Homo sapiens: one gene and its partners. The protein of the gene in region 1 purifies or fractionates together with the protein of each later gene. This does not show direct contact. Each region holds a gene or a part of one and is shown in the gene's direction. Other genes may lie near its edges.

What was found.
Region 2: the proteins of FUT8 (region 1) and MAN2A1 purify together in Homo sapiens (affinity purification with mass spectrometry; 2 studies listed by BioGRID and IntAct, with this or other methods). This does not show direct contact.
Region 3: the proteins of FUT8 (region 1) and MGAT1 purify together in Homo sapiens (affinity purification with mass spectrometry; 2 studies listed by BioGRID and IntAct, with this or other methods). This does not show direct contact.

Annotation. Positions count from the first base shown.
Region 1 is NC_000014.9:65,737,714-65,741,462, forward strand, and holds part of FUT8 (alpha-(1,6)-fucosyltransferase), read left to right. Parts: intron 1-3,749. UniProt on the Homo sapiens protein: Catalyzes the addition of fucose in alpha 1-6 linkage to the first GlcNAc residue, next to the peptide chains in N-glycans.
Region 2 is NC_000005.10:109,687,605-109,691,353, forward strand, and holds the start of MAN2A1 (alpha-mannosidase 2), read left to right. Parts: upstream 1-2,322; 5' UTR 2,323-2,813; coding exon 2,814-2,948; exon of another isoform or gene 2,949-3,495; intron 3,496-3,749. UniProt on the Homo sapiens protein: Catalyzes the first committed step in the biosynthesis of complex N-glycans. It controls conversion of high mannose to complex N-glycans; the final hydrolytic step in the N-glycan maturation pathway.
Region 3 is NC_000005.10:180,796,190-180,799,938, reverse strand, and holds part of MGAT1 (alpha-1,3-mannosyl-glycoprotein 2-beta-N-acetylglucosaminyltransferase), read left to right. Parts: intron 1-3,749. UniProt on the Homo sapiens protein: Initiates complex N-linked carbohydrate formation. Essential for the conversion of high-mannose to hybrid and complex N-glycans.

The DNA of each region.
Region 1 (3,749 bases):
GAGCAGTTAATGTTACTCTGTAGTTTCAGCCATTAAAAGTTATCATAATACAAAATCCTTTTTTTCCCCCTATGACACCTCCCTTTATGGCAGTTATTACAATACTCTCATGAGCCTCTCTTGGTCTAATTCCAAATCCGCACGCAATTCTACTCCCCTTATTACACTTTGAATCAGATTTTGGAAGCCCAGAGGGCAAAACCAAAAACTACGTTAACTATTCCAGACAGATGGCTCTGGACAGGAATTTCCATTGAGATGTGGCTCATGAAACAACAGTGGATACCTGTTGAGAGTACCATGGAGGAAAGCACAGGGTGAAATCCCAAGGTGTGAACTCTGTGATTACTTCCCAGAGCAGAAGACAAGAAAAGTATTTGCATCCACAGAGGCTCTATCTAGCTTACAATGCTGAGTGCTGTACAGTGCAGCTGTTACTGCATTAATCCTTCTGGTGTTTCTCACAACAAAGAAAAGACCTGGGTCTTATTCTCTTATTGTATAGTAAAACAAAGCAGATTACAGGAAAAGTGCACAGATCTCTCAGCCACTTCCAACTTCTCACACTAGGATATCCTCCTGCCCCTATCTATCTATTTTGACAAAAATAAGATCCCATCTACTCTGAGAAAGCTTTGGAGGCTTATGTAAACTCAGGCTACTTCTAAGGGATGAAATTCAGACTAATGGATTCCTCCCCCTTTTTAAAATTTTTTTTAATACAGTCATATCTGTTTTATCCTTTGGCAGGATTTTTGCTGTTACCCATTACTGTGTGCTTTACGATGTACTAAAAATGATACAGTGCCATGTCAACACAGAATAAAGTTAAACATACTACATGTAGCCAACCACTGCTTTGCAAACCATGGACTGCTCTCAGTCATGCCACCTGTCAAGCATCAAACCTGAGTATGGACGTCAGCTGCAAGCCTTCATTTACCTGCCATGTGATTTGAACTTTTAAACCACGTGGTAGGTAAGGAAAGAAGAGAGGAAGCATAGAGTGACTAAATGCGAACATTAACACTATAGTAATCTTTTTAGCCTTTTGCAGTAAATTGTCCCATGGTTGATATAGACAGTTTTAAAATTACTTCCTCTTAATGTTATATATGGATCTTAAGGGTTAAATATCACCCATGGACTTGTGTCTCCATTACTGGGCTGGTATTATGCCTGGAGCAATATTCATTCAACAGATACTTATTGAGCACGTACTTTGTGGCAGGCATTGTTCTAGGTGTTTATCCTAAGGGAATATATACTCAAGAGCCTGAAAGAGTTCTGACTGTGGCTCTGCCATTAACTAGTTCCTTTTTGGATTTTTATTTTTATTTTTTGAAATTTACTTAATCTTTCTGTGGCTTAGCTTCTTCATCTGTAAAATATGAATAATAATAGTACCTCACAGGTTTGTCATAATAGTTAAATGAGTTGAGACAAGGTGAGGGAAGAGCACACTATTATAACACTGCCTGGGACATAATCGGTGCTCATTAAGTTCAGCTGCTATCTTTAATGGTCATTCTTATGAGAAAAATAAAGGGCCACACCTGTGTAGCACTGGTATGCTTGCAGAGGCCTACAGTCACATTTGTCATTTTTATAATGGGCCACCTCAGTGTCTGAAATCTCTACTATTATTATAATAGTTATTTCTTTGGTTTAAGAAAACAGTTCTGTTATCCACCAAGGTTAACACATGAACAACTCTTGATAGCAAAACATACACTAATTATTAGGATTATCCCCAGAAGAAACAGGTCTCTAAGGGTGTGGGACAGGGTGCGATGTTGTTTTTATGAGAGTAAGACGTTTAAGAGTGGAGAGGAGGAAACACATCACGGTTCATTGTCACAGTAGAGATTGTGGTCATCCTAAGAGTAACACAAGGTCCTGCATTCCTGGCTAGGGATGACTGAAGAGTGGGTGAAGACACCCTGAAAAGAAGACTGTCAGGTTTACCCAAGACTGTCTTTGGTCTTATGCTATATCTTTCTGGTGTTACAATATGAACATGGAGAATAAGATTTACAAGAGAAAATATATATAGCAGTTTCAAGCATATGCAGACTGCCTGGGTTCCAACCTGAATTTACCACTTATTAGTATAACCTTGAGCAATGCCTTAACTTCCCTTTGACATTTGTAAAACAAACATAATGATAGAATTTTATGGGGATGCTGAAAGGAATCTAATTACATTAGATAATGTCTAAAAACAATGTCTGACAGTTAGCAAAAGCTCAGTAAATATTAGCCTCTGTCATTGTTATTGTAGTTTGCTATTATTGGAGCTGCTTTAATTATTTAGTTTCTTCTTTTCCTGAGTCCCACTTAATTTTGCTTGCCTTCTATGAGCCTTTGGCTGAATTTGAAATTCAAAAGTTCCAAATCTTTTTGATCCCTATTTTATTATAGTCTCGGTATTCTACCAATGATCTCAATTGTAAAATGACATTGCCAATATAATCGTTGTTGAACTAATAAATCTGAAAGCAAGGTTTCTATTATTTTGGTTCTATATCTAGTTGAAATTCTATCACTAAAATTTGCATAAATCACTTAATCTCCTTGTGTTTTAGTTGCCTATCTGCAAAATTAAAAATATTGGGGCAAATGTAGTTTCATTTGCAAATTATATATAGCATTTGAGAATTGCCCCTCAAGTTTTCTGAAATTCAGATTCTCTAAGTTGAGGTGATGATTAACCTAGTCAGATTTTATTTGATAAGAGTTAAGAATAGGCATCTCCATTTGTATTAGTCTGTTTTCGCATTGCTAAAAAGAAATACCTGAGACTGGGCAATTTATAAAGAAAAGAGGTTTAACTGGCTCATGGTTCTGCAGGCTATACAGGAAGCATGATGCTGGGGAGGTCTCAGGCAACTTACAATCATGGCAGAAGGCAAACGGGGAGCCAGCACTTCACATGACTGGAGCAGGAGGAAGAGAATTGGGAGGTGCCACATATTTTTAAACAATCAGATCTCACGAGAACTCACTACTGTGACCACAGCATCAAGGGGTGATGGTTTTAACCATGAGAAACCGCCCCCATGATCCAATCACCTCCCACCAGGCCCCATCTCCAACATTGGGGATTACAGTTCACCATGAGATTTGGGCAGGTAACACAAATCTAAACCATATCACCATTCAAGTTTTTAATCTTCATAAATGCCAAGGTTTTAAAAGACTGCCGGGTAGTCCTAAATTGCTCCACTGAGCAGATAAGCAATTACTATGAGTAGCGTCATTTTAAATACATGCAAAACTATTGGTATAGTGACAATAAAGCATTAACTAAGATTACCATAACTGGAGATTTAGGAAAATTTCATCTGAGTTGCATTGTTCTCTTTTCACAATGTATAAATTGCTTAAATTGGGTGATAGTTTAGTTTAACTTTATTACTAAGCATTAACCTCAAGGATTGAAGCTCAGATTGTGGAATTTCACCTGCTATCCAGTGAGCAGAGAGGGTATTCTTTGGACATAGGGACCTTTTAAGTAGCCTTAAAACTATAGTAATCAGGGTGATGCATTTCCTCAAAGGCTTGCCCAGTTTATGTCATCCAAGCATGCCACTCTCTACACAGCACACTTAAAACTTTTTAGAACAGAAATTGCCGATGTGTTTTAGCTCACTTGCCAGTGCTTGTTGATTGTCAGTAATTACATGAATCTCTCTTGAAAACAGTTCTGGGAGCGGGGAGGGATAGCATTTGGAGATATACCTAAT
Region 2 (3,749 bases), on another chromosome or scaffold:
CCCATCTAGATAGTGGCATCCTCTATAGTCAAGGTTTTCAAGCAAGGCTAGTCTCTTTAGACACTGGAGGGCAACCTACTTCCACTGATAAGAGAAAGAGTTGGCGTGTTTAAGATTGTCGGTTTCATCTGGGTCCAACCCATTTCAAGTATTGAGATTCTATTATTAAAAAATAACACCATTTTACACGAAAAACTCAGAATATGTGTGAATTTAATAGCAGTTATAATTCAGTAACATGAAAATTAAAATTTTGTTTGATTCTCAGCATAATTCTTGTTGCTACAATAAACCAGAGCTTTTGGAATTCTGCAGAATATCTCTGGTTCTCATACCATAACTCTGAGAGTTAAAAAACCTGTGCTTGTCATTTCTCTTTATAACCACTCAAAAGCACGCAAAAGAATCCATCCCACACCAGTCTTTCTAGTCATCTTTATAACCATAGCAGTCAAGTGTAGCAGCCACTTGGGGCCCCAAGGCACAGGCTTCAGTTGGCACTTCATCAGGATCAACCACAGGTAATTGCTTAATTGAGATGCCCAGCATGTCATGAATTACATTTCCCTTTGGCAAGGAGCTAAAGCTCAAAACCTCAATCAAACTGACCTTTAATCCCATCTTTGCAGGTCTATTTCTTGGGACTACTCCCGGGACAGGGAAGGCTTAATAAAAAGAATTGTTAACTATAATAGAGGATTAGAGTAATGAAGGATTCACTAGCAAGAAGAGAACTTTAAAGAATATAGCAACAGCAGCTATAAGGAGCTAACCTTATAACTAACTCTTGGGTTGAGAGACAGAGTGCCCAATGAAGAACCTCCCCAATTCCTCCCAGGGCTAAGATCTAGACGTTTTTGGAGAGGGCATGACCTGGCTCACTGAATGGCAGAGAAGTCACCATTGGGCTACGTCTGCAAAGCTTGTGGAAGATGTGCCCTCTGCAACTTGCTGCAAATGCCTCTAGGGTGCCAGGGAAGTTATTCATGGGGTAGTGTCTCACCTCCTCTACAAAGCTCCTAGAGTTGGGCATGTGAGAGGAAATTGCTAGTTACTGAGCACTATAGGACCTTGGCAGTGGAGAAAGCCAGGTATGCTGCAAAAGCTTATCAATACACAGAAATCAGGAAGCAAAATCCTTTTTTTCTGTAATGTCTCTTCAGCGCCCTCTGCTGATAAAGCTTCAGTCCCAGAAGGCAAACGAAAAACTGTTTAAAAGGCTCAGATCCGTTTTTACAGTGCAGTCAAAAAGGGCGAATTTGGAGCTGAGAGGCAATAAATCAATAACTGGCAGAAGCATCACTTCTCAGATTACACTCATGGATTTCGTAGTCAGATGTTTCTACATGTGCCTGGACGGCCCTTTGTCAGTCTCCTTTCCCCCAGGTTTTAACAGGCTGTCACCAAAGGAGGAAATAGTGAGCCCGAAGAGAATGTGCAAGCCCTCTTCTCTTGCATTTCCTCCAGCCCGTCACCAAGTACTCTTCCAGGCACGCCAGGCCCGAGTGTCCTAGGATAGGAAACCTGAGCAACAAAGGGAAGTGGGGTGTAAGCTCAACCCCTGTTGGACGTGGGGGTGCTGGCGCCTGAACGCCCCCGAAGGCCTCAACTCCCAGAAAGCTGCCTGCCAGGTCACAAGAGCCCTGTGAGGTCTTCCTATCGCCGGGACACTGGGAGGCAGGCGCGGGGCGGGTCCGCCGGGCGACGCGCTGTGATTGGGCGCCGTGGGGCCCGCCCCCTCATCTCGGAGCGTCGGGAGGGGGCGGGGCCAGCCGCCCGCTCGGCTCAGGCGCTGCGGGCGCCTATTGACCCAGCGGCTGCTGCGCCGCCGCTGTCTCCTCCTGCTCGTGGCGGGCGGTGCTGGAGCGCCAAGTGGCGCTGGAGAACCGGCGCTTCCTTTCGCCGCTTCCGCCGCCATCTCCGCGTTTGTGGGGCGGGAAAGAGGGAGGGGGCTAGCGGCTGCAGCTGGAGCGGGCTTCTCTCCGGGGACGGTCCTTTCCTCCCTGCTCTCCTTTTCCTTCTTTCCGCGTTGCCGCCGCCCGCCCCCTGCGCCTCCCCGCGGAGCCTGGGTCCGGGAGGGGGAAGGTAGGGGCGGCGGGGGGCGGGAGAGTCTGGCGAGCGGACGCTAGCTCTGAGGAAACTCATCAATCCGTGAGCCCCGGAGTCCGGGGTGCACATCGGCCCAGCCGCAGCGTCGGCGGCGGCGGCGGCAGCAGCACGAAGGGGCTCAGTCGGGGTAGGCGGGGGCGGTGCCGGTGCCGCGGGGGCGGGCCCGACCGTCCCGCCCAGAAGTTGTAGGGCTTGGCTCCTCGCGATCTTGTTCCTTTCCCCTCCGCTTCTCTGACCTAGCTGCGCGGCCCCGGCCCGGGAGCTGCCGAACCCGCGCCTCCCCTGGGTGAGGAGGACACGCCTGCCCTCGTCGAGAAAACTTTTCCTGCCGACTCAGTTGGGGCGGCGGTGGCAGGAAGTGCGGGCAGCGACCTCTCCTCCGCCTGCCCCGCGCGCCCTGCCGGAGGTCGGCGCTGAGCTTGCGATCAAGTTTGTGGGGGCCCCCCTTCCCAGTTGCCGGCGAGTCTCGCCTCGAGAGGGGCGCCCGACCCCGGGGAGGGCGGCAGGCCAGGGCGAAGGCCAAGGGCGTGTGGTGGCGCCGGAGACTAGGTGCGGAGCAAGGCGGGGACTCGCACCCGCATCCGAGAGCGCGGAGGTCGCGCAGCCCGGGAGAAGGGAGCCTCCGGCGGCTGCTTCCTAGAGTCCACAGTGCGCTGTCTCCTTTGGCTGAGGAGAGTGTCCTGGCCCCGAGTCTATCGAGGAAAATGAAGTTAAGCCGCCAGTTCACCGTGTTCGGCAGTGCGATCTTCTGTGTGGTGATTTTCTCGCTCTACCTGATGCTGGACCGGGGTCACTTAGACTACCCCAGGAACCCGCGCCGCGAGGGCTCCTTCCCTCAGGTAAGCACCTGGGAAGGGGGCGCGGGGCTCCGAGGGGCCAGGCGTGCGGGCCCCTGGTTAGCGGCTGCTACCCAACCTCTTCCTCCCGCCGCGGCCCCACACCCGTGCTGGGCGAGGCCAGGGGCTCTGTAGCTCTCGGACGGCAATGATCACCTCCTGGGAGCCACCTCGCCCGGGCGCGCCAAGTTAACAAAGTGCTGGGCGGCGTGCGGCGGCGGCGGCGGCATCATCCCGCTCAGGAAAGTGGCCATGTTCCGGCATTCGCACCCGGCCTGTTGGGGTGGCTTCGGGCACCTGCTGGCGGGGGAACGGGCGCGGCGTGAGGCACCCCCCGCCAGCCCGGGGCCCGCGTATCCCGGTGGGGTCGTTCTCGGCTCTCACAGGGTTAAGCCGCCCGCACCAGCCCAGAGCCCCTGAGCGCACGGAGTCGCGGAAATGGATCAAACCGAACCCACCTAGGCTTTTTTTTCTTTTTCTTCCCCGCTGCCTCTGAAGAGAGAGAAGTTTATTTCGTGTTGCGGCCCTTTTAGATGTGAATCTCTAGGTTGATTTTAGTGTCGTCATTCTTCAGCTATTACATCTGGTTTGTTTGTGGCAGACAGGGGGAACCGAGTGGGGAAGCGCGTGTTATACTCCGGCCGAAAGCTGTGGGGCGCTCAGTCCTGCGTCCAGTGGTTAAATTGGTAAATGAGTTGGGAAGACGACCCATCCAAAGTCTTATTTAAAGTTACCAAAAATAAGCAAAGCGGACACAGTCTGTTCCCTTTGGAAGGGTATCCACCGCGCGGCATGTGCGAGTTC
Region 3 (3,749 bases), on another chromosome or scaffold:
CAGTTGGAATACCTATGGGGGTCCTGTCCATGTAGCAGTGTCCTGTCCATATAGCAGGGTCCTAGGAGTCAGCATCTTAAGAGGACCAGGTGGAAACTACTGCCTTTTATGAGTTAGTCTCACAAGTCACATAGCATCTCTTCCCAGAACCAAAGGGAGGGAACATAGACCCTCAGCTCTGGAGGCAGGAGTGTCTTTATCACTTGTAAGAAGAGCATATGGAATGGGATATGTGCGGTCATCTCTGGAAAATGTCACACTTCACTCTCTTGCTGCTGCGTTGGCCATCTTTCTCCCTGATTTCGGTAATAGTGCAAGCAGTCTTCCATCCAGCCACTTGAACCTCATACATGTGCCAAGCACTGTGGTGGGCACAGAGGTCATAGAGTCTTTTTTCCTAAGGAGGAAGGTGGGAGTCAGGTCAGCGTGGCCACAGATTCTGTTACAGCGTGGAGAGAGTGCTGTGGGAGTGTAGTCATAGGGAGGCCTGGCTCTGTCTGTGATGTTACAGAAGGAGTCACCTGAAGTGGCCTGAAAGGATGTGTGGGTGGCTGGCAGGTGGCGCTGTGGGTCAAATTCCAGGATGAGGGACCAGCTGGAGCAGAGACACAGCAGCGTCCAGGTATATGCTTACTGGGGAAAAAGCAGCCTGCTGAGGCCAGAGTGCAGGGTCCATGGGGTTAGTGGTTGGAGGTAAGGTTGAAAAGGGATGTTTCAGACAGTCTGTCTGAAGGGCTTTGGATGTCATCATAATGAGTTTGAGTTTGAGTTTGTGGGCAGTGCAGCCTCTGATGGTTTTTAAAGCAAGTTAATGTCGTGACCAGGTGTACTTGTCAGGAAGGATGCGCTGTTGCTGTTGGGAAGGTTTGTGAGAGGGAAGCAAGATTAGTGACAGGTGGACCAGCTGGGAAACTACATCAAGAGTCCAGACTTAAAACAGTGTTTCCTACGAAGGAATGAGTTCAGGTTAAAGGGCTGGAGGGCTTGACATGGGATGCTAGCAGTCAATGAGTAACTTTGTACTTCCATTTTCATAGTTTTGAAGTTCTTGGTCCTAGATGTATTTCAGAATTGAGAATTTTTTGGATTTTGAAAAGATGATCTGGTGAATTTACTCTGTAGTGGAAGATCAGAAGCAGCATGGCATAAGCCACCATGTTTATTTCTGTAGCAAAATGTATGAATAGCCACAGCAGGAGAGAGAAAAGACTATAAATAGCCCCATATTAGATCAGATCAGATTTTACCAAATGAGGCTGGATGAGGTTTTACTGCCAATTGAGTTTAGAAAACTTCTGTGTTTTAGTGCTTCTTGGATTTGGCAGTTACAGTTGAGGAACTGTGGATGTTTTTAGATCCCAGGCACATCTGCTGAATGTTGAGAGCCCTAGCACAGCGGCTTGGCAGTGCTGGTGGAGCCAATCCCTGTCTTCATGTAGCTTGCAGCTGAGGGGGCCTGAGAGAAGTTGAGCAAGTGGTTGCGCTTGTTGCTGTTGGTGAAGGGTAGGTGGACCTTACATGGTCCCAGGCGTCAAGGAAGGCATCTTGGCAGAGACACGAATCAGAGTGTGCCAGGTGAAGAAGATAGGGAAGAGCAGAGCTGGCACATGGGCACATGCAAAGACCCCGACGGTAGGCTTGGCTGTTGGGGTACCAGACGGGAGTGTGGTAGAGTGGAGCAAAGAAAATGGGGAGAAAGGAGTGAAATAACGGCCGATATTTACGTTGTCATGCCGGCACTGTTCTAAACACCTAACATGGCTCATCTCATCCGATCTTCACAGCAACCCAGTTTGAGTCTCAGAAATGTGGCAAAACGTAGGGTGATGCCTCTGGGCTGTCTGGCTTGCCTTTGTTGCTGCTGCACTCTCCTGATGGTGGCCTGAGCAGTGCTTCCTGGAGAAGCAGGTCACCGCTGCTGGCCAAGGTCTGGGCTTGATCATCCTTTTGGGCACAGCCAGTTGTGAGAGGGTGTATGGCTCCTGGTTCATGTGTGTGCACACAGCACTAACTTCCAGGCAGAGCTGAGGATCCTATCCCAGGAACTACGTGGATAAACAGTAGGAAAATAGCACTGGGGCCCAGGCTGAGCCTAAGGAGGTGGGCTGGAACTAGGGGTGTCATGTCCTCTTATGGCAACAGGAGCAAGTTTGAAGCACAGGGCTGTGGGGTGGAGAACAAGGGCCCAGGGATTGATTAAGGTGGAGGCCAGGGCTTGGCCGGGGCAGCTTTTCCTGTGGGCTCTGCAGCCACTCCATGTGTGTGCAGACTTGCCAAGTAAAAACTCAGTCAGAAGACTGGTTTGCTCTGCATGGCTTAGAAGGGTGGGGCAGGAGGTCCTAAGCATCAGGTAGTGGGTGTGGGCCACCAAATTCTGATGTCTGGAGAAGAGTAAAAAGGCATCTAAAGGGTGCAGAAGTTATCTCAAGGGTCCCAGGAGGCTTTGCCATAAGGGCCTGCAGGTCATTGATGAGTCAGGGACGGGCTATCCCTCTGGGCCCCCCCCCCCTTTTTTTTTTTTTTTTTTTTTTTGGTGGGGGATGGAGTCTTGCTTCATCATCCGGGCTGGAAGGCAGTGGTGCCATCTCAGCTCACTGCAACCTCCGCCTCCCAGGTTCAAGGGATTCTCCTGTCTCAGCCTTCTGAGTAGCTGGGATTACAGGCACGCACCACCACACCCGGCTAATTTTTGAATTTTTATTTTAGTAGAGATGGGGTTTCGCCATGTTGGCCAGGCTCCTGACCTCAGGTGATCCGCCTGCCTTGGCATCCCAAAGCGCTGGGATTACAGGCTTGAGCCACCAAGCCCAGTGGGGCCCCACCCTTCTAAGCCATGCAGAGCAGCACTTCACTGAATAGAGTTCAGTCCCTCTTCTCCATCCCCATCCTGTTATATAAAGTCTTTTTCTTGCACAGTCATTTAGGAGGTGGGAAGTTGGGAGACAGGGAATCCTGGCCATTAGATTGGAGGGAAAGTTCCAACATGGACAACATCCTGAGGGGAGAGCGAAGAAGAAACTGAAACTCTTCTGGGCCCAGTGGCTCACACCTGTAATCCCAGCACTTTGGGAGGCTGAGGAGGGTGGATCACTTGAGGTCAGGAGTTCAACACCAGCCTGGCCAACATGGTGAAAGCCCGTCTCTATTAAAAATACAAAAATTAGCTGGGCGTGGTGGCAGGCACCTGTAATCCCAGATACTCGGGAGGCTGAGGCAAGAGAGTCGCTTGAGCCTGGGAGGCAGAGGTTGCAGTGAGCTGAGATCATGCCACTGTACTCCAGCCTGGGCAACAGACAGAGTGAGACTCTGTCTCAAAAAAAAAGAAAAAAAACTGAAACTCTTTTGTGCATCACTCTTTTCTTCCACATAAACTTTCTTAAAAATCAAATATGGGGATATGGCCCACAGCTCTGAGTAGCTTCATCCATCTGTATGGCCCCAGCTGGGCACAGCAGTAAGGCCAACTGAAACGACGTTTGCCCTGAATTTCTCGGTCACTTGACAACATGTATCTAATTGATACATAATATTTGAGCCCTGATATAATAGAATTTAATTGCACAGTTACATGGAAACAGACTTGACGTTTCTGAGAAGACTGATGTCCTGGCGTGGTGGGGGTGGTTGGTTTCTAGGAAGAAGACAAGTGGTTGGTGGTGAATGCTGGCAGGGGCTGGTGAAGTCTCCCCAGGAGGGAGACAGAATCCATGTCTCTTTAGAGGCCCTTCAGGATCAGCCCTTTTATACCA